4 linked regions of the Homo sapiens genome follow. The protein of the gene in region 1 purifies or fractionates together with the protein of each later gene. This does not show direct contact. Each region holds a gene or a part of one and is shown in the gene's direction. Other genes may lie near its edges.

Region 1 (7,024 bases):
GACTGGTAAGTATTTAACATTCATTGTCAATTTGGAGTTGTTAATCTCAATGAAAAGGAAGAATGAGTATTCCAAAATAATAAAGCATACCCAACTCATCTGGAGTTGGCTTTCTTTTGCACTAAATTTAGATAAATTATTTTTCTAAAACTCCTATTAAAGTTAACATATATGTCTTGAGCACATAACAAGTGGAAGAGAATTAGGTTTGTACTTTTTAGCAGGGAGAAACCAACAAAAGTTTACAAACATCCATTTTTTATGAGCCAAATAGTAAATATTAATTTTAGTATTATATGGTCTAAACTGGGAGAGTTCAAAGAATTATAATATTTCATTCCTTCATTTATTCAACAAGTAGTACCAGGAACTGTACTATGCCCTGGTAATAAAACATTACCTCTATTTTTCAAGAACCTAGTGGGTGATGCTGAGAAATATATAGACAATAGCAATATAGTGCCTTAAGTATTATGGTGAAATTAAACTTAACTATTATCAGGTGTAGAGATGGATTAAGGAGAAGGAAGTCGGGAGAAGTTTCTCCCTATGTAATTAGAGTAATATTTATTTTGGTAATTATCTATCTATCTATCTTATCTAAATATTCAAAATAAAGTGGAAGCAAAGGTGGTAGTTAAGATAATTAGACTAAGTAATGTAAATTAGGATGCATCAGCATTTGACAGTGCCTCCTCTTTTGAATATAAACCCTGGGACTAATGGAGAACCATTGAGAGTCAATAAACAAAGAGAATGACTTGGCAGTAGCCAGAGCAAGATATGTGAATCAGTGAGGTGTTGACAGCAGTTTTCAGATTTGGGAGAAATGGTGAAATAGCCAAAGCAATGCAACACTTAAACCCTCAGCATCTTTTTCAAGTTTTCTTTAAAGTAAGATGACAAATTCTCCAGTGTAGCCTAGGTTCTTCCTTTCATCAGGTCTTTTACTTATTACTTTATTGCTATTTTCTCCTTTCTATCACACTAACCCAAGAGCAGTGGTGTTCTGGTACTCTTTATATTGGCTCATAGCAGAGGACTGTTAAGTTTCAGCTACATTGGTAGGTTGAAATTGTTCATGGCAAGAGAATTACCATGATTTATTACCATGGAAATTGGGATATACTACAAGTAGAAGTTTGTTTTCCTAAGAATCAGATGTTAAACATTTATGTTTTTAAAATTTAACATTCACACTAAAAGTACTATACCAATAATTTTCATTTTGTATATGATGTTTCTACTGTACCAAATCAAATCTTTAAAAAATAGTAGATTGTCTAAACCTATAAGGAGCGGGGTTGACTGTGATCCAAACAGAACAGAGAGGATAATGAAGTTGTAAAAATAGGACAATTGTAGACATAATCTCTATTATGAACAGTTTTTGTAGGTGTGACCCTAAGAAAGAGGATCTTAAGTATGTATCTATTAGGAATGGATAAAATAAGAATATATAGTCAGAAAAAATATTGAATTTATTCCATATGCTCTTGAATAGAACTAAAACTGATTAGAATGAAAAGATGATTTCAGTTCATTACAAAAACAGTGTGTAAACAATGAGAACTTTTCAAAAGTGGAGGAAATTGCTTCCTAAGGTACTTAGTTTAATGCCACTTAAGTTGTTTATTGATCCACTTATTAATGATATATAGTAGATCATGACTATACAGAAGTTTACACTGGATGACATTGAATTTCTCATCCTCAAAAATGCAACGCTTGTGTGAATGTATATACTCCATTTCTGTTGAAGAAAGGCCACAACTCACTTATAATACTTACAAATCAGGGATGGTTTTTCATGACTGGGGAGACCTGTGGAGAGAAATGTGGCACTTTTGCCCAAGAATTTTAAATGTTGTTTATTCCCACTATACATTTTCTTATCTCTTCTTTTTTTCTTTTCTGTTTCTTTTCTCTAACTCCTTCTACTCCTTATTTCAAGCAGATGCAACTGTTTCGTAGCTGACATTAAATGGATGTCTTAGTTCTGACCATATCTAATGAAAATCTTTAGAGATTTAAATAGAGAAAAATATTTCAAAGTCCGTATCATCCAACTCTCAGTAACCATATCTTGGCTCTGTCTTGATGAACTCTGATACTTCCTACTGTTTTTCTAAGTAGTTCCTTCTACTTTTAAGTCCTATTACAGCTAGTTGACCTGGTGATCACAGATCCAAATGACATAATTTCTACCATGAACAGAAGTTAGAAGTTTGTTACCACAGCTGTTTGTAGGGATAGGTGGTTGTATTATTACTATTATAATACTACTTGGGACACAATATTATCCCCTGGCTGCTTTCCTTGTATCTTAAGACAGAGGGTTAATAATATTGCCAAATTTACTGAGAAAGTATGTTATGGTAGAAGAGCTGTATACTAGAGAAACAGGAGGTCTGAGTCCTCATACTAAATTAATCTTTAAGAATTTTGAACCTCAATGGTCTTATTTCTGTGAGTTTTGAATTATGCTGTCTTTACATTTCCATTTAATAGTTATATTTTTAATATAATACTTATATCATTAAGTACTAATAAATAAGAAACATCATATGTCTTATTCACTTTTTGTTTGTTTGTTTTTGGGTTTTTTTGTTTGTTTGTTTGTTTGTTTGTTTGAGATGGAGTCTTGTTGCTCTATTGCCTAGGCTGGAGTGCAGTGTCACCATCTCAGCTCACTGCAACCTTCGCCTCCCTAATTCAAGCAATTCTCCTGCCTCAGCCTCCCAAGTAGCTAAGATTACAGGTGTGTGCCATCGTGCTGGCCAATGTTTGTATTTTTAGTAGAGTTGGGGTTTCACCATGTTGGCCAGGCTGGTCTCGAATTCCTGACCCCAGGTGATCCATCTGCCTCGGCCTCCCAAAGTGCTAGGATTACAGGAGTGAGCCACTGTGCCCGGCCTTCACTTTTGTTTTTTGAACAATTAGCATATTGTCTGGTACCCAGTTGAAAACCTAACATTTGCTGAATGAATGAATAAGTGAATTAATATGTTTGCAATAGTATTGTAAAGTACCCAGGATAACCAAATATTAAGTGAAGAAAGCAAGTTACAAAACAGCACTTACGTATGACCCTATTTGAGGGTAAAATAAACTAAACTAATAAATATTAATATTCGTATGGAAAATATTGAAAGAATATATTTAAAAGCTGTGAACAGCCTGTGGTATTGCAGGCTATTCTCACTCTTTGTGTTATGTGTTTATAGAATTTTAAATCTTACATGACTTACGTTCACAAATTTTAGATATAAATGTATATTTAAGTTGCATTCAAATATTTTCTTTATTTTTACAATTTTACAGGTTTTTTCCAGTCTTTTAAAAGCATCCTTACTAATCCCCTGTATGTTATGTTTGTGCTTTTGACGTTGTTACAAGTAAGCAGCTATATTGGTGCTTTTACTTATGTCTTCAAATACGTAGAGCAACAGTATGGTCAGCCTTCATCTAAGGCTAACATCTTATTGGGTAAGACATATTTTTTACTTGTGTGCTTAATAAGTGAAATAATACTAAATACTGTATTCCAAGTGGTATTTTATTGTGAAAGTGATTTTGTATTTTAGTAATACAGGATAAGTATAATTTTCTTGTATTCTTTCTCAAATGTTATTAAACATATAAAACTTGTGATGTCACTATTGCTCTGCATTTGAAGTTGCATCTTATTTTAGATGAGTTCCTGAAAAAAATGTTGCAAATAAATGGACAATTTAGAGGTAGTATCTGTATAATTGGATCTTATAATTTAGTGCTAAGATCTGAGACAAACCCTTTTGTAATTATAATCATTATAATTCTATAATTTATGGACTTTGAAATCAAGACTCAGTTACTTACAAAAATATGACACTAATAGTTCCAAAAAGAGTATCGATTTAAATACATCAAAATATGCATAATTCAAAACAAATATATTTTACAGAGTATTTTTTGCTACAATATCTATTTTCAATGGCACATTTAGATGTGCTTATTAAGGAAAGTTTCCTTGTATTATTCTTCCCACAACTCTAGTATTGTAGACACATTATAGAAATTCAATATAAATATATGATGAATTAAACAACTTATCATGTGGTATGTAACTAGGTCATAAGTAAACAAGAAAATGAATGTACTGAAGCAGGAGACCAAGCTTCCAGATAATCTCTTTGTTGATCTTAAGATAAAAGTTTAAAATCGAAAAATAATGTTTTGACTCCCAGTAACCTAGCCTGAGCTTTTTCCTAGAGAAGACTTCATCTTTGTTAACTCTTATTAGACAAAGATATGGAAAAGTTATAGGAGGGATTAAACATTATTAATCCTGTATGTAGAGCGATTTGTCAGTTCAGGTTCTGTATGTTTTTTAATAAATGACAAAGATATATTAATTTTTATGTTGTTAAGCTCTGGGCAGATTTAGTGTGAGTTACTGAGGGTTAGAACTCTATCTGAGAGAGGCAAAAGGCTTTAGATGAAGTTCCATAGGCAGAAAGATGGTGTTTTGTTGTTGTTTATTTCCAGAAAAACAAAATTGCCTCATAGAAATTATCTGCTCCAACAAATATCCTCAGCCACACTGCCTTTTGCTATTGAGGAAACCAAACTGTCATCATTGGCAGGAACAAATTACACAGATCCCCTACCACCATACTGCTATATCATTCTTCTTTTTAAAAAGTAATAAGATTGGCATTCTACTATAAAGATACATGCACACATATGTTTATTGCAGCACTATTTGCAATAGCAAAGACTTGGAACCAACCCAAATGACCACCAATCATAGACTGGATAAAGAAAATGTGGCACATGTGTACCATGGAATACTATGCAGCCATAAAAAAGAATGAGTTTATGTCCTTTGCAGGGACATGGATGAAGCTGGAAACCATCATTCTCAGCAAACTAACACAGGAACAGAAAACCAAACACTGCATGTTCCCACTCATAAGTGGGAGTTGAACAATGAGAACACATGGACACAGGGAGGGGAACATCACACACCGGGGACTGTTGAGGGGTGGGAAGCAAGGGGAGGAAGAACATTAGGACAAATACCTAATGCATTCAGGGGTTAAAACCTAGATGACAGTTTGATAGGTGCAGCAAACCACCATGGCACATGTATATGTATGTAACAAACATGCACATTCTGCACATGTATCCCAGAACTTAAAGTAAAATTTTAAAAAGAAGCAATAATATTGAATAAATTTGATTGACATACATTGTGTTTCATCTATAAAGACATATCAGAAAACTCATATATGATTACAACTTTTTTTCTTTTTTTTCTAGGAGTCATAACCATACCTATTTTTGCAAGTGGAATGTTTTTAGGAGGATATATCATTAAAAAATTCAAACTGAACACCGTTGGAATTGCCAAATTCTCATGTTTTACTGCTGTGATGTCATTGTCCTTTTACCTATTATATTTTTTCATACTCTGTGAAAACAAATCAGTTGCCGGACTAACCATGACCTATGATGGGTTTGTATATATCACTATATCAATTGCATAATATGTTAACCATCAAATTAAGAGTCTCTGTATAAGTAATATAAGGCAGAAAACAATTTTAACTAAACTTTCTTTAAGTTAAGAGAAATTTCAATTTTAAAATTTTTAAAATATCTGTTTCTTAAGACCTCAAACACATTCTTTTATTCCTCCACTAAAGAGAAGCAACATAGGTTGTAATAATAATAACTATTATTTATGTGGTACTTACAATTAGTAGTGGGTACTTTTATCATTATTTTATGAATGGGAAAAGTAAGGCTTAGAGAAATACATGGATTACACAGCTAGCATTATTAAGATTCTAACTCAAATTTGAGTTTTTTAAGTCCAAAACTCTTAGTCTTAACCACCACTGTAATCTTGGATGGATCATAAGAGTTACATAAATGGCATTAGCCAAAAGTGACTAAACAACTTTTATCTACAGTTCATATCGATGTTCAACAACTATCTTAACAAAAGAACACTTTTAATGTTGTACTGAATTTTCTTTTTTGCAAGCTAATATTGTTTTTTTCTGATATTATCTACATTGGAAGTAGCATTAAGAAATATTCTATATATAATTGCATATTAGACATTGAAGAATCTTTACTTTTCCATGATTACCATGTATAGCAAAGTATTTTTAGTGCAACAGTCTCCACCTCAAATCAAGGGCAAGAATCCTATGCAGTTTTCTGATAATTTCCTGAATATAGCCAACAATTTAAGCTTAGGAAGGTTCACATTCAAGCAACAAGCAGAGATGCTCAGATCACAATTCAGTAACCATGTTCTTTAGTGCTGCTTACTACTGGTGCTGAGCTTTCAAAGTCTGGATCCCATGAGGTGTTGGTTTTAACTTGTCAAATATTCCCACATTTTCTTCTATAAACATTGTGCTATTCTTGGAGGCTTGCCAAGGTTATCTGAAATTGTTTCCCTGCACACTGCTAATTCTGAACTGTTATTGGTATCTCCTATCCACCATCAACTACTGTAGTAAATTAAAATACATTGTCCTAGAATACTGAATTTTAGAGGTAAAAGAACCTTAGAGATGATGCAATCCAACCCTTGTATTATACTTTCCTTTATTATTGAAGAGTCAGAAAAAATGTAACATGTTGAAGTCACACAATGTCTTTAGACTCTAGACTGATCCTATGTCACACCCTTAGTTCAAAAGCCTTCTTGGTTGTAAGGACAGGCCAGTTTCTTGACAACAAGGTTAGTCACTGTACAAAGTATACAAAAGATGGCAGCAGAGTTAAACAGAATTTGTTTCATTTAATAAAATTTTATTAAGCCTTTCCTTAAAGGTAAATATTAAGGATATTTGTAGGATACATCAGTTCCCTCATGGGACTCATAATCTAATGATAAATAATATAATTAATGGATTCAACATTCATAAAATCCTGCGACTGGGATAAGTTTTTTTTTAAGTATGAATTATTGCAGAGGTCTCGGAATGTGTTCTGAATATCTCTAAGGATCCCTGAG
Region 2 (7,024 bases), on another chromosome or scaffold:
CATGGATTACTAATTTAGAAGTATTTATAGAGCATCAGTGGAGTGTATATACAATTTTAGATGTTTTAATTGATGATTTAGTCTGGCCAGGATATTTGAGTTACCAGAGCTTGGAACCCCTAGCTTCTATATTATCATTTATTATTTTGTAGTTTTTTCCATTTCTGCAAAATTAAATTTTTTTCATGGTGGCTTTCCATCTTTCTTGCTTTTTCTAACATCTTTTTTCCAATGGAAGGGCTCTTTTCTTTGTCTGAATTAGACCTGTTATTTAAATTCATCATCAGCGCCTCCCCTAATCTGTACTTTCCCCCAGCACGTTTCAGATGCTTTTTCCTTTCTGAGCTACCTTTACATTTTAACTACAGTGTGCATATATCTTATTCCTTCTAGACTCTTAAAGTGTCTTTAGGGCAGGGTTCATAATGTATTTTAATCTTTGTTTTTCCACAGTAGTAGATGCCCAGTAAATACTTGTGAAATGAATTAATTATAGTTTTATTTGAAAGAAATCACAGATCTGTAATTATAGCAACTTACGTTACTAGGTACTAAAACACTTTTTAAAGACTAGAAACTGAAGTTCTCAAATGAAGTTCATTGTGTCAAGCTTTTTACTTAAGGGATTTTTTCATATTTACTAAATGCTTTGACTGCTTTCTTGTTTTTTTTTTTCTTATTGAATTTAAGTATCTTTTAAATGTGTGAGAGTTATGTGATTGATTGTATAGTATCTAGCTTTTCATACTCTTAGTTAAGAGTAACTTTGGACTGATATTAAGATGTTCTTCAGGCCGGGGGCTCACGCCTATAATCCCAGCACTTTGGGAGGCCAAGGCAGATGGAGCACTTGAGGTCAGGAGTTTGAGACCAGCCTGGCCAAACTCCTTTCTGGAGTCAAGCACATTTTTATGGTGAAACCCTGTCTCTACTAAAAATACAAAAATTAGCTGGGCATGGTGGCACATGCCTATAATCTCAGCTACTCAGGAGGCTGAGGCAGGAGAATCGAGGCGGTGGTTGGCAGTGAGCAACCACTGAGTGGTTAAGATTGTGCCACTGCATTCCAGCCTGGGCGAGAGAGCGAGACTGTCTCAAAAAGAAAGATGTTCTTGAGAACCTGTCAAGTAGTAAATATTTTATCATAGGATAGTCAATTCTATAAAGTACTGGATATTTTAAATTCAGAATTTCATCCACATTAAACTTTTTCTGTTTTAGAGTCATGTACTTTTGTTTTTGTTTTTGTTTTGTTTTGTTTTGAGACAGAGTCTCGCTCTGTGGCCCAGGCTGGAGTGCAGTGGCGCAATCTTGGCTCACTGCAAGCTCCCCCTCCCGGGTTCACGCCATTCTTCTGCCTCAGCCTCCCAAGTAGCTGGGACTACAGGTGTCTGCCACCACACCGGCTAATTTTTGTATTTTTAGTGGAGATGGGGTTTCACCGTGTTAACCAGGATGGTCTCGATCTCCTGACTTCGTGATCCGCCTGCCTTGGCCTCCCAAAGTGCTGGAATTACAGGTGTGAGCCACGGCACCTGGCCCCAGAGTCGGGTACTTTTACATTTCATTTCTCTTTTTTACTTGACACTGATTTCTGGTGATTGAAGCCTCTTTAGCCTTGACACAGTTTGCTGGGTGCATATTATTATAGTACAAATCCTACTCATGCTTTTGTTTTTTAGTTTTCTCTTTTTCCCTAACCACTAGACCACCAGGGACTTCATGCTTTTGAATGTAAGCTTATGTGTGCTTAGTGTTATATCTGCCTTCTATCTAGCACCTTTTTTTTGGGTAGGGGGGTGGGGTACGAAGTCTCGCTCTGTCGCCCAGGCTGGAGTGCAGTGACGTAATCTCGGCTCACTGCAGCCTCCGCCTCCTGGGTTCAAGCAGTTCTCCTGGCTCAGTCTCCCGAGCAGCTGGGACTACAGGTGCACGCCACCACGCCAGGCTAATTTTTTTGTATTTTAGTAGAGACAGGGTTGCACTGTGATGCCCAGGCTGGTCTTGAACTCCTGAGCTCAGGCAGTCTGCCCGCCTCGGCCTCTCAAAGTGCTAGGATTATAGGCGTGAGCCACTGCGCCCAGCCCCCAACTTGTACCTTTTTTAAAGCTAGTTTCTTGAAAATTCCAAGCAAGTGTTAACTACATTTGATGATGAATCATAGAGGCATTTTCTGTTCTCAAGTTGGACCCCGAGACATGAAAGTTGCTAATGTCCAGAAAAAGCATACAGAATTAGAACATTGTTATGGGGTCTCTTTCCAGATCAAACTTTCATCAGCTGTCTCAGAAAGCAGAAGGGCTAACAATATAAACACAGCCATATTTTCTTTTAATAAAAATTGTTATTAAAGAGTGTGGACTTAAATTTAGACATAGTTTTCGTTTAGTCAAGCACATTTTATACCATGTTACTATAAATGTGTAGTCTGAAATTCCTATTTGGGTTGATGTATTCTACATTAATAACCAGGTCAATGTCATAACTGGAATGTGTTTTCTCTCTTGGCCTGTTTTGCAATAACAATGTCGGAGAGAACTGTAATAATGATTTGTGTTTTGGTCATTTCTATATCGAAGCACTCTTTTTAAGTAGGGCCTATTGAATACTACATGGCTTTTTGGAAGGTTAATTTTGTAGATTATATAGGGTTCATTTAAAAGTTAGAATCATTTAAATTATACATGCCGTAGCATTACCAAGGTATGCTTCAAAAAATTTGAATAGATGTCCATGAAAAAAATTTTGTCAGCAAAGAAGTGTGTGCAACGACCACTAACAAAGAAAAAACCTCTAGTATTTATGCAAGGTTTTGTAAGCAGGCACTGTGTTATAGTTTCAGATATTTTTAAAATGTAGATAAAAAGTAAGCTGTTTGCCAAATTTATCTGACCAGACCTTTTTTTTTCCTCTAGGGAACTTTGTTATCTATTATTTTGAGAAGCATACTTAGGGAAAAATTGTCCAAGAGGATATATAATTCTGATGCCTTTTTCTTTATTTTCCTTTATTTCATTAAAAACATTACTCTTGAATCTGATTAGGAAAGAATATTAGAATTCCTTATATACATTTGTTGATACCAAATACTGTTCCTCTTTCTTTTTATGTATTTACCTTTTATTATTAATATTACTGCTTTGTACTCTGCTTTTTGTCTGTTGTAGGTATAGTAAAGTTATGCTTATTATTTTTATACCTCAAGCAGAAGTGCCATAAACATTTTTTGTGTCAAAAGTTATTCACCATTAATTTGAAAACTTTTTTTTTTTTTTAAAGAGACAGGCTCACAATATGTTGCCCAGGCTGGTCTTGAACTCCTGGCCTCAAACAATCCTCCTGTCAGCTTCCCAAAGTGCTGGGATTACAGAAAAACTTTTGTGGTGTTAGATTTTGAGATGCTAGCATTTGTGATAGGTTATTTGGTAGACATGTTTCATTATGACCCCTTGCTTAAAACGATGTCCTTTTGAAAAGCATAGTTCATTTATGGGAAAGAGCATGGAGAATAAATGAAGCAGTATATTACTTGGCTGACTTAAGGTAACTATAATGGAAATGGATTCATTGGATTTGTCTACAAAGAGACTTGTGTTTGATTTTTTAATGTTCCCACATCTCTTTTTATAGATTATAATAATTTAGGTCATATGAAGATAAGATTTGCTTTTGCTGTTTTAATAAAGTCTTCTCAGTAACAGAGTTAAATTTAAAACAAATTTCTGGGCCAGGCCTGGTGGCTCACGCCTGTAATCCCAGCACTTTGGTAGGCTGAGGCGGGTGGATCACCTGAGGTCAGGAGTTTGAGACCAGCCTGGCCAACATGACGAAACCCTGTCTCTGCTAAAAATACAAAAATTAGCTGGACATGGTGGCAGGTGCCTGTAATCCCAGCTACTAGGGAGGCTGAGGCAGGAGAATCACTTGAACCCACGAGGTGGAGGTTACAATGAGCCAAGATCGCACCACTGCACTCTAGCCTGGGCAATGGAGTGAGACTCCGTCTCAAAAAAAAAAAAAAATGACTTTTGTAATCTAAAACAATAATATTTTTATTTCATCTAAAACATAAGTGAATTGACTATTAGCATGAATTATTTGTCTTACAGTTAGGGAAATTCTGTTTTAGGAAGGTACAACTATGTTTTAAATTTCAAGGTAAGATTATATCATAAAATTAAATCAATATTAGGTGCTTGACAAATATTTGTTGGATAAATGATTGATTGATTAGAGTTAGCATTTTAATTGCCATTCCTGTTCTTTATTTTTTCCTGTCAGTTAAGTAGTTACTGAATACTTAAAAAAAAGAATTGTGAAAAAATACTGCAAGCTGTATTACACTAGTGTCCTTTAATTTTTTTGCTTTTATATTTTTATAAACGATTAAACGTAAATTAGTATTGTTTCATAAGCAAATGTGTTTATGAAAATAAACATTTCTCTAAACAATATTTTTTCCCCATAACTTTAAAGTTTTAGAAGGTTACATGTGCAAGTTGTTACATGGGTAAATTGCCTGTTGCTAAGGTTTGATGTATAACCATCACCCAGGTAGTGAGGATGGTACCTGATGGGTAGTTTCTTAACTCTCGCCCCCTCTCCCACCTTCCCCCCGTTGTTGTCCCCAGTGTTGACTGCTCCCATCTTTAGGTCCGTGCTTACTCATTGTTTAGCTCCCACTTGTAAGTGAGGAAATGCAGTATTTGGTTTTCTGTTCCTATATTAATTCGCTTAGGATAATGGCTACCAGCTGCATCTATGTTGCTGCAAAGGGCATGATTTTATTCTTTTTCATGTCGACATAGTATTCCATGGCATATATGTACTGCATTTTCTTTATCCAGTCCACTATTGATGGACACCTAGGTTGACTCCACATCTTTGCAGTTGTGAATAGTGCTCCAGTGAATATGCAAGTGCATATGGCTTTTTGATAGAATGATTTATTTTTCTTTATTTTCCCTTATTTCATTAAAAACATTATAATTGAAATGACTATTAGCATGGATTATTTTAGTCTTACAATAAATAGTCATAGTTACTGGACGCAGTGGCTCAAGCCTGTAATCCCAGCACTTTGGGAGGCTGAGGCGGGCAGATCACGAGGTGAGGAGATCAAGACCATCCTGGCCAACATGGTGAAACCCCGTCTCTACTAAAAATACAAAAATTAGCTGGGCATGGTGGCACCTGTGCCTGTAATCCCAGCTACTTGGGAAGCTGAGGCAGGAGAATCACTTGAACCAGGGAGTTGGAGGTTGCAGTGAGCCAAGATCGCGCCACTGCACTCCAGCCTGGCGACAGAGCGAGATTCCATCTAAAAAAAAAAAAAAAAAAAAAAGTCATAGTTGGGGGAGTTCTGTTTTAGGAATGTTTTAAGCTTCATGAAGGTAAGGTTATATCATAAAATCACGTCTGTAGGGCCGGGTGCGGTGGCTCATGCCTATAATCTTAGCACTTTGGGAGGCCGAGGCGGGCAGATTACAAGGTCAGGAGTTCGAGACCAGCCTGGCCAATATGGTGAAACCCCGTCTCTACTACAAATACAAAAATTAGCCGGGCGTGGTGGCGGGCACCTGTAGTCCCAGCTACTTGGGAGGCTGAGGCAGGAGAATAGCTTGAACCCAGGAGGCAGAGGTTGCAGTGAGCCGAGATCACGCCACTGCAGTCCAGCCTGGGCAACACAGTGAGACTCTGTCTCAAAAAAAAAATTAAAAAAAATAAATTAAGTCTGTATTAGCTGCATGACAAATATTTGTTGAAAAAATACAGTAGTGAGACTGCTGGGTCGAATGGTAGTTCTGTTTTAAGTTCTTTGAGAGATATCCCAACTGCTCTCTACAGTGACTGAACTAAAATTACATTCCCACCAACAGTATATAGCATTCCCTTTTCTCTATAACCTCTCTAACATCTGTTTTTTGTTTGTTTGTTTTGTCTTTTTAATAATAGTCATTCTGACTGGTGGGAGATGGTATTTCACTGTGGTTTTGACTTGCATTTGTCAGATGATTTAGTGGTGTGGAACATTTTTCCATATATTTCTTGCCTATGTATATGTATTGTTTGGAGAAGTGTCTGTTCATGTCCTTTGCCCATTTTTTAAGAGTTTTTGGTTTTTGCCTGTTGAATTAAGTTCCTTACAGATTCTGAATATTAGACCTTTGTCAGATGCATGGTTTGCAGATGTTTTCTCCCAGGTTATAAGTTGTTTGTTTACTCTGTTGATAGTTTCTTTTGCTGTGCAGAAGCTCTTTAGTATAATTAGGTCCCACTTGTCAATTTTTGTTTTTGTCACAATTGCTTTTGGGCACTTAGTCATAAATTCTTTGCCAAGGCCAATGTCCAGGATGATATCTCCTAGATTTTCTTCGAGGATTTTTTTTTTTTTTTTTTTTTTTTTTGAGTAGGAGTCTGGCCCTGTCACCCAGGCTGGAGTGAGTGCAATGGTGCGATTGGCTCACTGCAACCTCTGCCTCCCGGATTCAAGCGATTCTCCTGCTTCAGCCTCCCAAGTAGCTGGGACTACAGATGCACACCACCACACCCAGATAATTTTTGTATTTTTAGTAGAGACAGGGTTTCACCATGTTGGCCAGGATGGTCTCGATCTCCTGACCTCGTGATCCTCCCACCTTGACCTCCCAAAGTGCTGGGATTACAGGCGTAAGCCACCATGCCCAGCCTCTTCTCGGCTTTTTATAGTTTTAGGTCTTATATTTATGTCTTTAATCCATCTTGAGTTAATTTTTGTATATGGTAAAAGGTAAGGGCCCAGTTTCATTCTTCTGCATAAGGCTATCCAGTTATCCCAGCACCATTTATTGGATAGGTAGTCCTTTCTCCATTGCTTGTTACTGTCAATTTTGTCAAAGATCAGATGGTTGTAGGTGTGTGGCTTTAGTTTTGGGTTCTCTATCCTGTTCCATTGCTCCATGTCTGTAATAGGCTGTTTTGGTTAGTGTAGCTTTGTAGTATAGTTTGAAGTGGGGTAGTGTGATTTTTCCAGCTTTGTTCTTTT
Region 3 (7,024 bases), on another chromosome or scaffold:
GCTGTGTTGCTCAGGCTGGAGTGCGTGGCTACTCACACAGGTGTGATCATAACAGCAGCCTCAAATGAACCGCTGGCCACAGTGCCCTGGGTAGCTCTAGGTGGGACTATAAGCACGTACTGCTATGTCCCTGTTATTCCTTTTTCTTTTTTTTTTTGAGACTGAGTCTCGCTCTGTCGACGGGGCTCACTGCCACCTCTGCCTCCCAGGTTCAAGCGATTCTTCTGCCTCAGCCTCCCAAGTAGCTTGGACTACAGGTGTGTGCTACTACGCCCGGCTAATTTTTTGTATTTTTTAGTAGAGATGGGGTGTCACCGTGTTAGCTAGTCTGGTCTCGATCTCCTGACCTCGTGATCTGCCCACCTCTGCCTCCCAAAGTGCTGGGATTACAGGCGTGAGCCACCGCACCTGGCCTGATGGTTGCTTTGAGATAAAATAAATTAATAGAAAGTATTTAGAATACTACCAGGCACATACCGAGGGCTTATATAAATATAGTTCAGCTTTGTTTTACTTTGAGTTTTAATTGTGAGTGAAATTGAGTATCCTTCATAAGTTATTTAATTCATTATAGATATATATTTTAATGAATTGCTTCTTTGTGTTCTTGGCTTATTATTTATTCATTTATTTTTGAGGCAGAGTCTTGCTCTGTTGCCCAGGCTGGAGTGCAGTGGTGCTATCTCAGCTCACTACAACCTCTGCCTCCTGGGTTCAAACAATTCTTGTGCCTCAGCCTCCCAAGTAGCGAGGACGACTGGCATGTGCCACCACGCCTGGCTGGGTTTTTTTTGTCTTTTTAGTGGAGACAGGGTTTCACCATGTTGGCCACACTGGTCTCGAACTTCTGGCCTCAAGTGATCTGCCTGACTCGGCCTCCCAAAGAGCCGGCATTATAGGCCTGAGCCATTGTGCCTGGCCCCTAGCGCCATTTTCTACTGGGACATTGGACTTACTGATGTGTAAGGATTCTTGGTATATTAAGGAATTTACCTTTTGTGTTTCCCTAGCAACTAATGATAAGCATTTTTCATGTGTGTATTCTTTTTTTTTTTTGAGATGGAGTCTTGCTCTGTCACCCAGGCCGTGGTGCAGTGGTGTGATCTTGGCTCACTGCAAGCTCCGCCTTCCGGGTTCACGCCATTCTCCTGCCTCAGCCTCCCGGGTAGCTGGAACTACAGATGCCCGCCACCACGCCTGGCTCATTTTTTTGTATTTTTAGTAGAGACGGAGTTTCACTGTGTTAGCCAGGATGGTCTCAATCTCCTGACCTGATGACCCACCCGCTTCGGCCTCCCAAAGTGCTGGGATTACAGGCATGAGCCACCACACCCGGCGAAGTTTGTTTTCTTATCATGACAGCCATTCAGATATTTAAAGGCAGGTTTCATGTAATGGCAGTTTTCTTCCATCCCTGCACCAATTAAACCTTTCTAGTTGCCTCAACTGTATTTCATGGGTTATGGTCTCCAAGCCACTTTGTATCATTTGCACAGATTTCTTACAGGTTAAAGGCATTGTTTAAGTTTAGTCCTCAGCACACCGTGAGATAAACATTTGCTATTTCCACCTCAGCCTCCCAAAGTGCTGGGATTACAGGTGTGAGCCCCCGCGCCCAGCCAGTGAATTAGTTTTGTTGTTGTTGTTCTTTTAAACAGAGTCTCGCTCTTTTGCCCAGGTTGGAGTACAGTGACATGATCTTGGCTCACTGCAACCTCTGCCTCCCGGGTTCAAGCAGTTCTCCTGCCTCAGCCTCCTGAGTAGCTGGGACTACAGGCGCCCGCCACCACGCCTGGCTAATTTTTGTGTTTTTAGTAGAGACAGGGTTTCACCATGTTGGCCAGGCTGGCCTCGAACTCCTGACCTCATGATCCGCCCGCCTTGGCCTCCCAAACTGCTGGGATTACAGGCATGAGCCACCACGCCTGGCCTAGCATTTTAGTGTTTAGCAGCCACCACTAGACGTAGTGTAATATAGTTTGGTATGGGTCTTTTTTATGAAGTCTCTTTTGACTATTGATTTAATTGAGAACCTCTGCAGTCATTAGCCCCTCTGGGCCTTTTTTTCTCATCTGTGTAATGATGGGTTTGGTAAGAAATCAAAGGAAGTATCTTCATTTTCTTATAAGAGGGTAAAGGAAGTCTGTATATATTTGTGTGTATAGACTAGTATACAGTTACACAGATGTATACATTTGTGTGTTTATGTCTACAAAAATAATGTCTATTTGTATCTCCATCTCCATTAAACAGTTCAACTGTTTAATCTTCAACAAACAATTCATTGCCAGTCTTGTTTCATTTTTATCCTCACTAAAGTAAATTCAAGATGTTGTATTTGATTCATAAATATATTTTTTTAACAGATAAGGACTCCAAAAATATACAATTTTGGCATTTTTTATGTTTTGGCTTTTGAATAGACAACTTACATGCAGTATAAAATTCAAGAAGTATGAAAGTCTTTTCTTGTTCCTTATCCCTTAGTCATTCCATCTCTAAGAGCATCCATATCTGTACATAATGTAGAGCTGCCTCATTCTTTTTAACAACTGCATAGTATTCAGGTGTGTTGCTATATGGTAATTTAATTCTTTATTAATTGGTATATTGTTTATGAAAGCAAAAACCAGGAAACAGTGTTCTATTGAGTTTCTTGTTACTTATGTAATTTTGTGTTCGTGGAAAGTTATTTCTAAATACTTGTAAATGAAACTGCTGGCTTCAAGAGTAAGTCCTTTCTTTCACATGTACATTTTTAGTTTTAAAAGATATTACCAAATCTTAACCTGTTAAATTACATTAAAACCCTTTGGAGGCTGGACGTGGTGGCTCATGCCTGTGATTGTAGCACTTTGGGAGGCAGAGGCAGGACGTTTGCTTGAGCCCAGGAGTTCAAGACCAGCCTAGGCACCGTAGTGTGACCCTGTCTGTTAAATAAAAAGGGGAGTTAGGCAGGTGTGGTGGTGCACACCTGTAGTTCCAGCTGTTTGGGAGTGCTGCTCAGGAGGCTGAGGTGGGAGGATCACTTGAGGCCTGGAGGTCTCTGAAGCTGCAGTGAGCTGTGATCACACCACTGTATTCCAGTGTGGGTGACAGTGAGATCCTGTCTTGAGGGCAGGAAAACCTATTGGGTAGAATTAAAAATTATGCAGTGAATCTGTCCATGTAAAGCATCCCTCTCACCTGTATTTGATGATGCTAATTGAGATTTGTAAATAGCTTTTCTTAAATGTAGATGTATTTTGTAGAAGTAATTTTATTGTTTGGCATAGGGTATACATTTTGTCAGTGTTTTTCTACAAGTAAATGTTGAGGGAATTAATAATACCAGTTGGAATCATATTTGTATCTCATTTGGAAAGGTTGTAAAAATGTTCTGATAGTAAAAATTGAAGGCAACAAAAATGAATTCTCCACATACCAGATGAATAGGCAGGCTGAGGATTTATTACTGGCTGATATGCATAAATAGCCACTATTAGCCATTTAACTAACACACCAGAACTACTGCTAAAAATTCCCTTGAGATTATATGGCATTTAGGATTAGAAGAAAGAACAGAAATAGCTAGAGAAACCTGATCCTATGGACAGGTTTCTGGATAGAACTAGCATACCTTATGGGCAGCCCTATCCCAGATAAATAAAAACACTGGTAGAAGGTTTTTATTAACTGTTCAGTTGGTTTAGGTTTTACTAAATGATTTTTAATTTAAGCATCTTTATTTGAAAAGCCCATAATACCCCTAAGAAGGTTTGGCTGAGTCATTTACATGTCATTCTGAATGGATTCAGTTGCTTAACCCTGCTGAAATTTCTTGTGAGTTTACAATTTTAAGGGACTTGGTTGCCTGAGGAAAGGTCAGTAGAAGGCATGAGAGCTATACACTGAAAAGATAGGAGAGGAAATGTCTGATATGTAAATGTTAATTTCTTCACAACTTAAAATTATTTGCAGTTCTTCCAAGATTGATCATATACTATTGATTAACCACATATATGTTATTTATTAACTTTTATGTTGATACCACTCATGTTTTTATCCTTTGACTTATTTTTACAGATAAAGTGGAGAATTTTCATGAAGAACATGAAAAGAATAGTCACCATATTCACAAAAATGCTGATGACAGTACTAAGAAACCCAATGCAGAAACTACAGTGGCTTCTGAAATCAAGGAAACAAATGATACTTGGAACTCCCAGTTTGGGAAAAGGCCAGAATCACCATCAGAAATATCTCCAATCAAGGGATCTGTTAGAACTGGTTTGTTTGAATGGGATAATGATTTTGAAGATATCAGATCAGAAGACTGTATTTTAAGTTTGGATAGTGATCCCCTTTTGGAGATGAAGGATGACGATTTTAAAAATCGATTGGAAAATCTGAATGAAGCCATTGAGGAAGATATTGTACAAAGTGTTCTTAGGCCAACCAACTGTAGGACGTACTGTAGGGCCAATAAAACGAAATCCTCCCAAGGAGCATCAAATTTTGATAAGCTGATGGACGGCACCAGTCAGGCCTTAGCCAAAGCAAACAGTGAATCGAGTAAAGATGGCCTGAATCAGGCAAAGAAAGGGGGTGTAAGTTGTGGGACCAGTTTTAGAGGGACAGTTGGACGGACTAGAGATTACACTGTTTTACATCCATCTTGCTTGTCAGTTTGTAATGTTACCATACAGGATACTATGGAACGCAGCATGGATGAGTTCACTGCATCCACTCCTGCAGATTTGGGAGAAGCTGGTCGTCTCAGAAAAAAGGCAGATATTGCAACTTCTAAGACTACTACTAGATTTCGACCTAGTAATACTAAATCCAAAAAGGATGTTAAACTTGAATTTTTTGGTTTTGAAGATCATGAGACAGGAGGTGATGAAGGAGGTTCTGGAAGTTCTAATTACAAAATTAAGTATTTTGGCTTTGATGATCTCAGTGAAAGCGAAGATGATGAAGATGATGACTGTCAAGTAGAAAGAAAGACAAGCAAAAAAAGAACTAAAACAGCTCCATCACCCTCCTTGCAGCCTCCCCCAGAAAGCAATGATAATTCCCAGGACAGTCAGTCTGGTACTAACAATGCAGGTAAGAATTTAAAAAATATGTATAATAAGTACAATAGTTCCCCCTTACCTGCAGTTTCACTTTCTGTGGTTTCAATTACCCAAGGTCAACCATATTCTGAAAAGAGGTGAGTACAGTATAATAAGATAAAGATCCCATTCACATAACATTTATTATAGCGTATTGTTAAAATCATTGTTCTATTCTTAGTCATTGCTAATCTCTTACTGTGCTTGATTTATAAATTAAACTTTATCATAGGTATGTATACGAAAAAACATAGTATATACAGGTTTTGGTGTACTATTCCTGGTTTCAGGCATCCACTAGGAACTGGCATGTATTCCCTGTTGATGGCTGGGGGGGCTACTTTAAATGTGTTTTTCAGGCTTGAATCAACAGCTGCATAGTTTCTTCCTAGATACTCAAGTTTAGCTTGTTATATTTATTAAAAGTACCTGTTAGAACCGTAAATCACCTTATCTAAAGGTACAGCATTTCAAGTGTTAATGATCAGGTCCCAAGTTGTAAGGAACCAATTTGTAGATTGGAGAGTCTTCATATTTGAGTTTTAATTTAACCTTTAGCACTTGAGAATTTTAAAGCATATATGTGTATGGGGCAGGGACACCAAACATCGTGATGTTTCCACTTGACAAATGCAAATGCAGTGAAAACATAGATTAGATTTTGGGCCTTTGGAACTGTACTGATAACAGGTGGTTATAATGAGGGAAATACCAGAAGATTAGAATTTAAAAACTCTTTGTGGTTGGCTAAAAACTAATAAACATTCAAAACACTCTCAAACCCTCCTAAGTTGGTTTAATAAAATTGAAAAGTGCCAGGTAAGTATGCATTCCCTCTTAACTGTGGAAATTTAATTTGTGCCGAGATTGTAGACTCAGTAGTGACTAAGGGTCCTCAAGGAGTTCAGTCTCCACTGTGAGAGACAAACAAAAGAAATAGGTTAGCTCTGCCATAATTAAGTCATTACCTGACAAGGGCTTTGTGAAGTGGATTGACTATCTAGTGAGGAAGAATTTGTGAAAGCTTCTAGGATACATGGTTTCTTAACCAAATATAGTTTTTCTGGATTGGTTTACATATTAAATAAAGCTTTTTTCCTGGTAGGGCCACAGAAGTGTCATTATGGTAAATTAGAATTACAGTAGTATTTTGAAATACAAATTCTCTTGTAGAATATAAGTCATTCTTGAGATTACCTACCATTTTGCTTTATTTGGCCTGAAAATAGTTTTGCTTAATTTATTCTTCAAAACTAGACATACACAGGAGTACCCCTAGGGGCTCACCCCTGCCTCCCCCGAAAAAAAAGAAAAAAGAAATACATCCAGTGTTGTCTTTGAATCTTTTCTGGAGACTGGAAATTTGCAGCAGCCTTACTATAGTCACTTAAGATCTGGCTAGGCAGAACAGCTAGGCATTTGTTTCCTCAGTAGAATGATAAATACTGCTATACAATACCAGCGCCCTTGTCCTGCTGTAGTTTACTTATAAGCTTTTATTCTAACCTGGATAGCAAGTTATCCCCTGCAATTGAGAATCTGTGGCTGAAATTTACATCTTGTGTAATACAACTTTTAAAGATGTAAAATGTGAAATTAGACTCCCTTTGAGAAACTTGAAGTAGATGCTAAATAACATTTGAAAATTAGAGGCCATTTGGTTGATCTACCCAAAGTTGAAATTTGAGTCTTCATACCATAAGTGAAACAGCAAAAAATTTTAAGCATTGGGATAGAGAAGAGTCTTTCTATGTTTCCTATTTTGTTTCGCTTAGAAAAAGATACATATTTTTAACCAGTTGGGAAATAAACTGACTCTTTGGTTAGTTGTGTTTGAAGACCGACAAATCATTAAACTTTGTTATATTAGGTCATTTTAAATCTCTTGCCAAGGATAACTGTCCTCCTTTTCTGGTGTTTTAAAT
Region 4 (7,964 bases), on another chromosome or scaffold:
AGCACTTTGGGAGGCTGAGGCAGAAGATTGCTTGAGCCCAGGAGTTTGAGACCAGCCTGGCCAACATGGTGAAACCCCATCTCTGCAAAAAATACAAAAATTAGCTGGATGTGGTGGTGCACACCTGTAGTCCTAGCTACTCGGGAGGCTGAGATGGGAGAATTGCTCGAGCTGGGGAGGCGGAGGTTGCAGTGAGCCTAGATCGCGCCATTGCACTCCAGCCTGGGCGACAGAGCAAGACCCTGTCTCAAAATAAAGTAAGAATAAGATAAAAACCAAATGTGAAATTGTGTGGTACACACGGCAGGTAGGGCAGCAGCCCAGACACAAGGTGGAGGGCAAACTCTAGAAGGCGGCCTGGAGGAGGCGGCAGCCACAGCTAAGCTCATTAGGCATTTTGTAATGAGGAGAACTTACTGAGGAGGAGGGGTTTAAAACCGCTCAGCCATGCCTGTGCTACCTTCTCCCACCCTGCCAGAGCCAGTGTCTGAGCTGCGGGCCAACTTCACTCTGCAGGACAGAGGGGCAGGCCCCAGGGTGGAGATGATCTGCCAGGCGTCCTCGGGCAGCCCACCTATCACCAACAGCCTGATCGGGAAGGATGGGCAGGTCCACCTGCAGCAGAGACCATGCCACAGGCAGCCTGCCAACTTCTCCTTCCTGCCGAGCCAGACATCGGACTGGTTCTGGTGCCAGGCTGCAAACAACGCCAATGTCCAGCACAGCGCCCTCACAGTGGTGCCCCCAGGTGAGAGGGCCCTTGGATTTCCAGAGGGGCAGCTGGCGCTTCTGTGCCGGGAGGGTGCTAGTGTCCAAGACACAGGTCGATGGGAAGTGGGACAGCTCTACCCGGCCACTGCTGAGAGCAGAGAGGGCACAGGAGGCAACCATGCCCACCCTGGCCCCTGCCTAAAGGAAGCCCAACCCAGCTGCCTCCGCCCCCTCCCAGGAGGGTTGCCCAGGGCACCCACCATCGTGCTGGTTGGCAGCCTTGCCTCCACTGCGGCCATCACCTCCAGGATGCTGGGCTGGACCACGTGGGCCAGGTAGGAAATGGGTGCTCGATGCAGGGAGGAGGGAGAGCTGCTGATGGCCTGAGAGGTCCAACCGGGCCCTGGCTGCAGAGCTCAGGTGGTGGGGCTTGCAGGGCAGGGCTGTGGCCAGGGCAAAGAGCGGCCATCACCGCTTACGCATGACTCGAAGGTGTTTATGAGGACCTACTGTGTGCCATGTGCCTACTGAGGCTTACACATTCAAGGCGTTATCGGACCCTGACCAGTGCTCCCAGGTGCCCTGTAACACAGTCTGCTGGCCTCTGGGAGGGCAGTCTCCTAAGTTCTTTATGGGGTCTGAGCAGGGATTGCAGGGATGATGCCTCCAGGAGACCAAGGTGGACCAGGAGCTCCTGCCTTCTGTGAGAACCACCTTGGGCAGTCTTTCCGAGGTGGTGGCAAGAGCCTGGGGCCCAGCCTCCCAGGGTCCCCTCTCCAAGGCCATGGCTTTACTAACATGTAAAGTGACCAAGGCCTTTGTAGTGTCTGAGTGCAGGCACCACAGGCCTGTGTGCTCTGCCTGTCTGGCTTTGGTGGTGGCCAGCCCTGCCTCTGTGAACTCATCTCTCTTTGTTTGGGAGACACTGCCGTGTCCTGGTTCTCATCCTCTGCCCGTGGCCCAGGCCCTTACGTGGCTCTACCAGGAGTCTGTCCTTGGCACTTTCCCATCTCACTTCTACCAAGTCTGTTCTTTCCAGAAGCCAGACTCGTGGGTGAGCCATGTCACCTCGCCGAGCCTCAGTTTTTCCTTCTGTAAAATGGGGTACAGCCTTCATTTAGTGGGGTGAGTAAGCCTCATGTCTCTTCTGCTGGGGCACTGATGTGCTTGGCACCATAAAACTCCCAGAGGCAGGCCGGGCACAGTGGCTCATGCCTGGAATCTCAGCACTTTGGGAGGCTGAGGCAGGCGAATCACCTGAGGTCAGGAGTTCGAGACCAGCCTGGCCAACATGAAGAAACCCCGTCTCTACTAAAAATACAAAATTAGCCGGGCGTGGTGGTGCGCACCTGTAGTCCCAGCTACTCGGGAGACTGAGGCAGGAGAATCACTTGAACCCAGGAGGTGGAGGTTGCAGTGAGCCGAGATCGTGCCATTGCACTCCAGCCTGGACAAAAAGAGCAAAACTCCGTCTCAAAACAAACGAACACTCTCAGACGCCTCGGGAGGGGATGGCTGGGAGGTGAGCCTGCCTGACTTGAGTCTCCACTGCTTTGTCAAGGTGGTGACCAGAAGATGGAGGACTGGCAGGGTCCCCTGGAGAGCCCCATCCTTGCCTTGCCGCTCTACAGGAGCACCCGCCGTCTGAGTGAAGAGGAGTTTGGGGGGTTCAGGATAGGGAATGGGGAGGTCAGAGGACGCAAAGCAGCAGCCATGTAGAATGAACCGTCCAGAGAGCCAAGCACGGCAGAGGACTGCAGGCCATCAGCGTGCACTGTTCGTATTTGGAGTTCATGCAAAATGAGTGTGTTTTAGCTGCTCTTGCCACAAAAAAAAAAAAAAAAAAAAAAGGGTAACTATGAGAGATGGTGGATATGTTAACTTGCTTCGCTATAGGAACCTTTGTGCTATCTATATTATCTATATGAATCCCATCATATCAGGTTGTCTACCTTAAATATACACAAAAACATTTATTTAAAAAAAAGAAAAAAGCCTGCCAGCTGGGATTCTTGGAGTGCTGGTGGCCTTCAGCAAACACAGACACTGTTGGTGTGAGGGCTTCAGGAGGGTCACAGAAATAAGGGGGTCTGTGTGGCCCTGTCCTCGCCTCTCAGGTGCTGTCACATCTCTCTGGGTGTAGGGAGAGGGAGGGGGGCACACTGCGAAAAGGCCCAGCCCCTCCCCCCCACCTGCTCCCCTCTTCCCTGGAGAGGCACCCCACCTCCTGGTGGCCCAGTCCTATGGTTCAACTCTCACGTGGTCCAGCTCACCTGGGTTGACTGTGAGCCCCACCTGGCACACCTGCTGTTGTTAATCTGCACCTGCAACTAGCAAAGGGGGGTCTGGAATTCTTCCGGGTTCAGTCAGCCTGTGATCCCACACCTCTGTCTGTACAACCTCCGCTCCCCACTCCAACACACACAGAGCCTGCCCCAGCCTACCCTGCACCAGACCCTCTGTACCGGTTTTTCTTGGGATGGAGGTAGAGAGGGACGGAGGCGAGAGGGGGCTGAACTGGAACTGGATTAAACTTTGCCATCTGCCTGTCGCCCTGAAAACTTCATTTCTGTTTGCATGCCATATATATATTTTTTTATATGTGGTCTTTTCTTTTTTTTTTTTTTTGAGATGGAGTCTCGCTCTGTCGCAATGGTGCAATCTCGGCTCACTGCAACCTCCGCCTCCCGGGTTCAAGCGATTCTCCTGCCTCAGCCTGCCAAGTAGCTGGGACTACAGGCACGCGCCACCATGCCCAGCTAATTTTTGTATTTTTAGTGGAGACGGGGTTTCACCATGTTGGCCAGGGTGTTCTCGATCTCCTGACCTCGTGATCCGCCTGCTTCAGCCTCCCAAAGTGCTGGAATTACAGGCGTGAGCCACCACGCCCGGCCGATATGTGGTCTTACTCTGTCACCCAGGCTGGGGTGCAAAGGCGTGATCTTGGTTCACTGCAAACTCCGCCTCCTGGGCTCAGACAATTCTCCCACCTCAGCCTCTGGAATAGCTGGGACTGCTAGTAGCTGCCACCACGCCTCGCTAACTTTCGTTTTTGGTTTTGTTTGTTTGTTTGTTTGTTTGTTTGTTTTGTTTGTTTTGAGATGGACTCTTGCTCTGTTGCCCAGGCTGGGGTGTAGTGGCTCGATCTCAGCACACGGCCACCTCTGCCTACCGGTTTCAAGCAATTATCCTGCCTCAGCCTCCCAAGTAGCTGGGATTACAGGCGCTTACCACAACGCCCAGCTAATTTTTTTGTTGTTGTTGTATTTTTAGTAGAGACGGGGTTTCACCATGTTGGCCAGGCTGGTCTCAAACTCCTGACCTCAGGTGATCCAACCGCCTCGGCCTCCCAAAGTGCTGGGATTACAGGTGTGAGCCACTGCGCCCGGCCTTGCACACCATCTTTTTTTTTTTTTTTTTTTTTTTTTTTGACACAGAGTTTTGCTCTTGTTGCCCAGGCTGGAGTGCAATGGCACAATCTCGGCTCACCGCAACCTCCACCTCCCAGGTTCAAGCGATTCTCCTGCCTCAGCCTCCCGAGTAGCTGGGATTACAGGCATGCACCACCACACCAGGCTAATTTTTGTATTTTTAGTAGAGACGGGGTTTCTCCATGTTGGTCAGGCTGGTCTCGAACTCCTGACCTCAGGTGATCCAACCGCCTCGGCCTCCCAAAGTGCTGGGATTACAGGTGTGAGCCACCGCTCCCGGCCTTGCACACCATCTTAAGTGTGACGCCACACTGCCCTTCACAGCCTTGGGGCTCTGCCCAGACCAGGAGGAATGGGGAGGGGGTCTTTGACCCTACCCCAGGCTTAGCCCCAGAGAGGAGGAAAGAGTGGCAGGCCAGGCAGGGAGGGGCTCCAGGGTGTGGCCTGGGTTTTTCAGTGGGATGGGGGAGGGGTTGCTTATGAGCCTGGGTGGGTTCTTGGTAGGTGGTGGGCTTCCTAGAGGAGGCGGTGGGAGGGCAGGGGCAAAGAGGGTGAGCGGTCCTCAGTTCGTCCGTCTTCCCGGGGGACTCTCTGACCCTTTCTGGTCCGTGCTGCGGCCGGCGTGGCCCGGAGACTAGCCCCTCAACCCCGAGGTGGGGTGGACCCGGGTGCTCCGCGGCCACAGCCCCTCCCCGCCTCTAGAAGCGCAGTCCCGCGGCTCGCCCGCCGCTCGCGAGGGCCGCACTTTGCCCTCGGTCCCTAGCGGCGCCTGGCCACGCCCCCGGCGGGTGGAGTCGGGCGGGGCGCCGGGCAGGTTCCTCTGCGTTCCGCGGCGGCGGCAGCGGCGGCGACGGCGACATGGAGAGCGGGGCCTACGGCGCGGCCAAGGCGGGCGGCTCCTTCGACCTGCGGCGCTTCCTGACGCAGCCGCAGGTGGTGGCGCGCGCCGTGTGCTTGGTGAGCCCGGGGAGGGCGGGCCGAGGGCACCCTGGGGACCCCCTCTCCGTCGCCAGGCCCGGCGGGGCCCCTAGCCCACGAGCGCGACAGGTGGCGGCGGCCGCGTCCGGGGCCTGGCGGCGAGCGGGGCCGGCGTCCAGCGTCCCGGGCCCCGCCTTCCCGCCCTCCACAGTCTGTCCCGCTGTCCCCTCCCGGTCCCGGGTCCCGCCACCCACCCCACCCCCAGCCTCGCGCCCCGACGCGGGGTGTCCGGATCTCCGCAGGGAGCGGGCCCCTGCCTCGCTGGCAGTGGGAGGAGTTTGGGGGCGGCTCCCGGACAGGTGGCCCGCACGCCGCGACTCCCAGATTGGGGAGTTCACCGGGACGGGGTTTTCCGAAGCCACGTGGGGTAAGGGAGGGGGCGGGGGGCGACCCAACGCCCGGAAACAGGGTGTCCTTCCCACTCGGGGCAGGCCACGGGTCCGCCTTCCCACCCGAAGTTGAGGGACCCCAAGATGTACCCCCTCCCTGTAAGGTGGGCAATACCTCCAAAACCAGGTTTTGTGTGTGTGTGTGTGTGGCGGGGAGGGGGCCTGTTCTTGGACAGCCAGCCCTGAAAGCTGGAGGGGGTGGCATGAGGGGGCAGGCAGAGGTGGGCCTGCTGTGCCCAGACCATGCCTGGGCCTGGAGCTTCTGAGGTCCTCCAGGGCGCCCACACCAGCTCCCAGCCAGGCTGTGGGATCTGATCGCCTCTGTCCTGGGCTGTGTCCAAGAATCAGGTGCCCAGTGGGTCGGGATGGCAGTGCCAGGAGTCCTGGATGGGCACCCTGCTCCCATCATCCCGGAGATCCGGCTTCATCTCCATCTGGGGGCGGGGCCTGTGACTGCCAGCTCCAGAGCCCTATGGAGAGCTCCCTGGGACAACAGGGCAGGACTGGCAGGGGAGAGTCCTGGGGCCATCCCAGAGGGATCCTGATGCTCACAGACCTGTCCCACACCTGCTGAGGTGGAGCAGGCGTGGGTGGTGGCCTTCAAGTTTAGGGAGGTGGTATGGGGCTCTTCCCAAGGGGCTGGAGCTCCCCTACATCCACCCTGGGTCCTCCAGGTGTCTGAGTTCAGAGCTGTATCCACAGGCCTGAGTTAGTCCCCTTGTAGTGCCCTGTGCATGCAGGGCCCTCTGTGGGGTGGGAGACAGACTGGGAGGGACCAGGATGCCACAGAGGCTGCAAGTCCTTGTGTGGAGACAGCTGGCCAGGCTGAACCAGGGAGGGTTCCAGGGGTTCCAGGAGGTGAAGACACAGGGGCGCCAGCATGGCCTTCCCAAGAGGGCCTGTCCACCTTCACCAAGGTGTTCAGGCAGAGGCTGGGTGCTGTAGAAGTGACTTGGGCTGAAGGTGACGGGGGATGGGTAGTCTTTGTGACTTGGCCTGTCTTGGTTAAACCTCTTTCAAGGTGAGGTTGGGCTGGGGATGGAAGGACTGCCCTTCATCCATCAGGTACCTAAGCAGAATGATTCCTGCAGCAGGCCGATGGGGCAGGAGCAGCCCCTGCCTAGGAGGTCCCTGCCCATTCCCCACCCCTCCCCGGTCCAGGATTCCCAGGGGCAGGCCCCCTGGTGCCTGCAGATTCTCATCCTGGGGTGCATCAGGAAGCACTTTGCTCATCAGCTCACCTCCACAAGTTTGGAGGGGCTAAGATGTCAGCCTCCAAAAGGGGACAGCAGGCTGGGCGAGGTGGCTCATGCCTGTAATCCCAGCACTTTGGGAGGCCGAGGAGGGTGGATCACCTGAGGTCAGGAGTTCCAGACCAGCCTGGCCAACATGGTGAAACCCTATCTCTACTAAAAATACGGGTGTGGTGGAGGGCACCTGTAATCCCAGCTACTAGGGAGGCTGAGGCAGAATTGCTTGAACCCAGGAGGCAGAGGATGCAGTGAGCCGAGATCGCACTATTGCACTCCAGCCTGGGCAACAAGAGCAAGACTCCATCTCAAACAACAACAAAAACCCAAAAGGGGACAGCAGTAGTGGGAGAGGCCAGCATCTGTACACCCCATCAGGGTCCCCGCTGTGTGTGCCCCTCAGGCGGCCACCAGCCCTACCAGGTCCTCCCCTCCCGGCAGGTCTTCGCCTTGATCGTGTTCTCCTGCATCTATGGTGAGGGCTACAGCAATGCCCACGAGTCTAAGCAGATGTACTGCGTGTTCAACCGCAACGAGGATGCCTGCCGCTATGGCAGTGCCATCGGGGTGCTGGCCTTCCTGGCCTCGGCCTTCTTCTTGGTGGTCGACGCGTATTTCCCCCAGATCAGCAACGCCACTGACCGCAAGTACCTGGTCATTGGTGACCTGCTCTTCTCAGGTATCTGCCTGTGGCACCTCCATTTGATCTTGGGGGAGGCATTAACTCTAGGGTTCCGCAGCTGGGAGGGTCTCGGCCTCTCTGGGAGGGGCAGGGAGCAGCTCACTCCTCCAGGGCATTTTTAGGAAAGGGTTTTCAGCTAGTGTTTTTCCGTGCTTGAATGGCACCAGCCCTGCCTGGGGTAGCTAGAAGCTGAGTGGACCTGCAGCACACCCGAGCAGATGGGCTTTGCCTCTGCCCCTTTTGTCCCCTAGGCTGTCTGCTGTGGCCCACCCTGCCAAGGCCCGAGTGTGGGGGACTTTGGAGGTGGCTCCCGGCCCGGCTTCCAAGTCCTCCCCTCCATAGTGTGGAGGCTCCCCCGGGAGGTCCCTGCCCTACCTGCCCGCGTCCCCTCCCAGAGTCCTGGAAAGCCCCTCCCTTTCCATGGAACTGACGCTTCACCCGTCCTCCCCCAGCTCTCTGGACCTTCCTGTGGTTTGTTGGTTTCTGCTTCCTCACCAACCAGTGGGCAGTCACCAACCCGAAG

Evidence for each region.
Region 2: the proteins of SLCO1B1 (region 1) and USO1 purify together in Homo sapiens (affinity purification with mass spectrometry; 3 studies listed by BioGRID and IntAct, with this or other methods). This does not show direct contact.
Region 3: the proteins of SLCO1B1 (region 1) and WAPL purify together in Homo sapiens (affinity purification with mass spectrometry; 2 studies listed by BioGRID and IntAct, with this or other methods). This does not show direct contact.
Region 4: the proteins of SLCO1B1 (region 1) and SYNGR2 purify together in Homo sapiens (affinity purification with mass spectrometry; 2 studies listed by BioGRID and IntAct, with this or other methods). This does not show direct contact.

Annotation. Positions count from the first base shown.
Region 1 is NC_000012.12:21,197,184-21,204,207, forward strand, and holds part of SLCO1B1 (solute carrier organic anion transporter family member 1B1), read left to right. Parts: coding exon 1-5; intron 6-3,324; coding exon 3,325-3,489; intron 3,490-5,307; coding exon 5,308-5,503; intron 5,504-7,024. UniProt on the Homo sapiens protein: Mediates the Na(+)-independent uptake of organic anions.
Region 2 is NC_000004.12:75,727,555-75,734,578, forward strand, and holds part of USO1 (general vesicular transport factor p115), read left to right. Parts: intron 1-7,024. UniProt on the Homo sapiens protein: General vesicular transport factor required for intercisternal transport in the Golgi stack; it is required for transcytotic fusion and/or subsequent binding of the vesicles to the target membrane.
Region 3 is NC_000010.11:86,497,785-86,504,808, reverse strand, and holds part of WAPL (wings apart-like protein homolog), read left to right. Parts: intron 1-4,065; coding exon 4,066-5,091; intron 5,092-7,024. UniProt on the Homo sapiens protein: Regulator of sister chromatid cohesion in mitosis which negatively regulates cohesin association with chromatin. Involved in both sister chromatid cohesion during interphase and sister-chromatid resolution during early stages of mitosis.
Region 4 is NC_000017.11:78,163,617-78,171,580, forward strand, and holds the start of SYNGR2 (synaptogyrin-2), read left to right. Parts: upstream 1-4,964; 5' UTR 4,965-5,000; coding exon 5,001-5,099; intron 5,100-7,200; coding exon 7,201-7,438; intron 7,439-7,893; coding exon 7,894-7,964. Other genes in the region: C17orf99 (protein IL-40), read left to right, coding at 479-1,050. UniProt on the Homo sapiens protein: May play a role in regulated exocytosis. In neuronal cells, modulates the localization of synaptophysin/SYP into synaptic-like microvesicles and may therefore play a role in the formation and/or the maturation of this vesicles.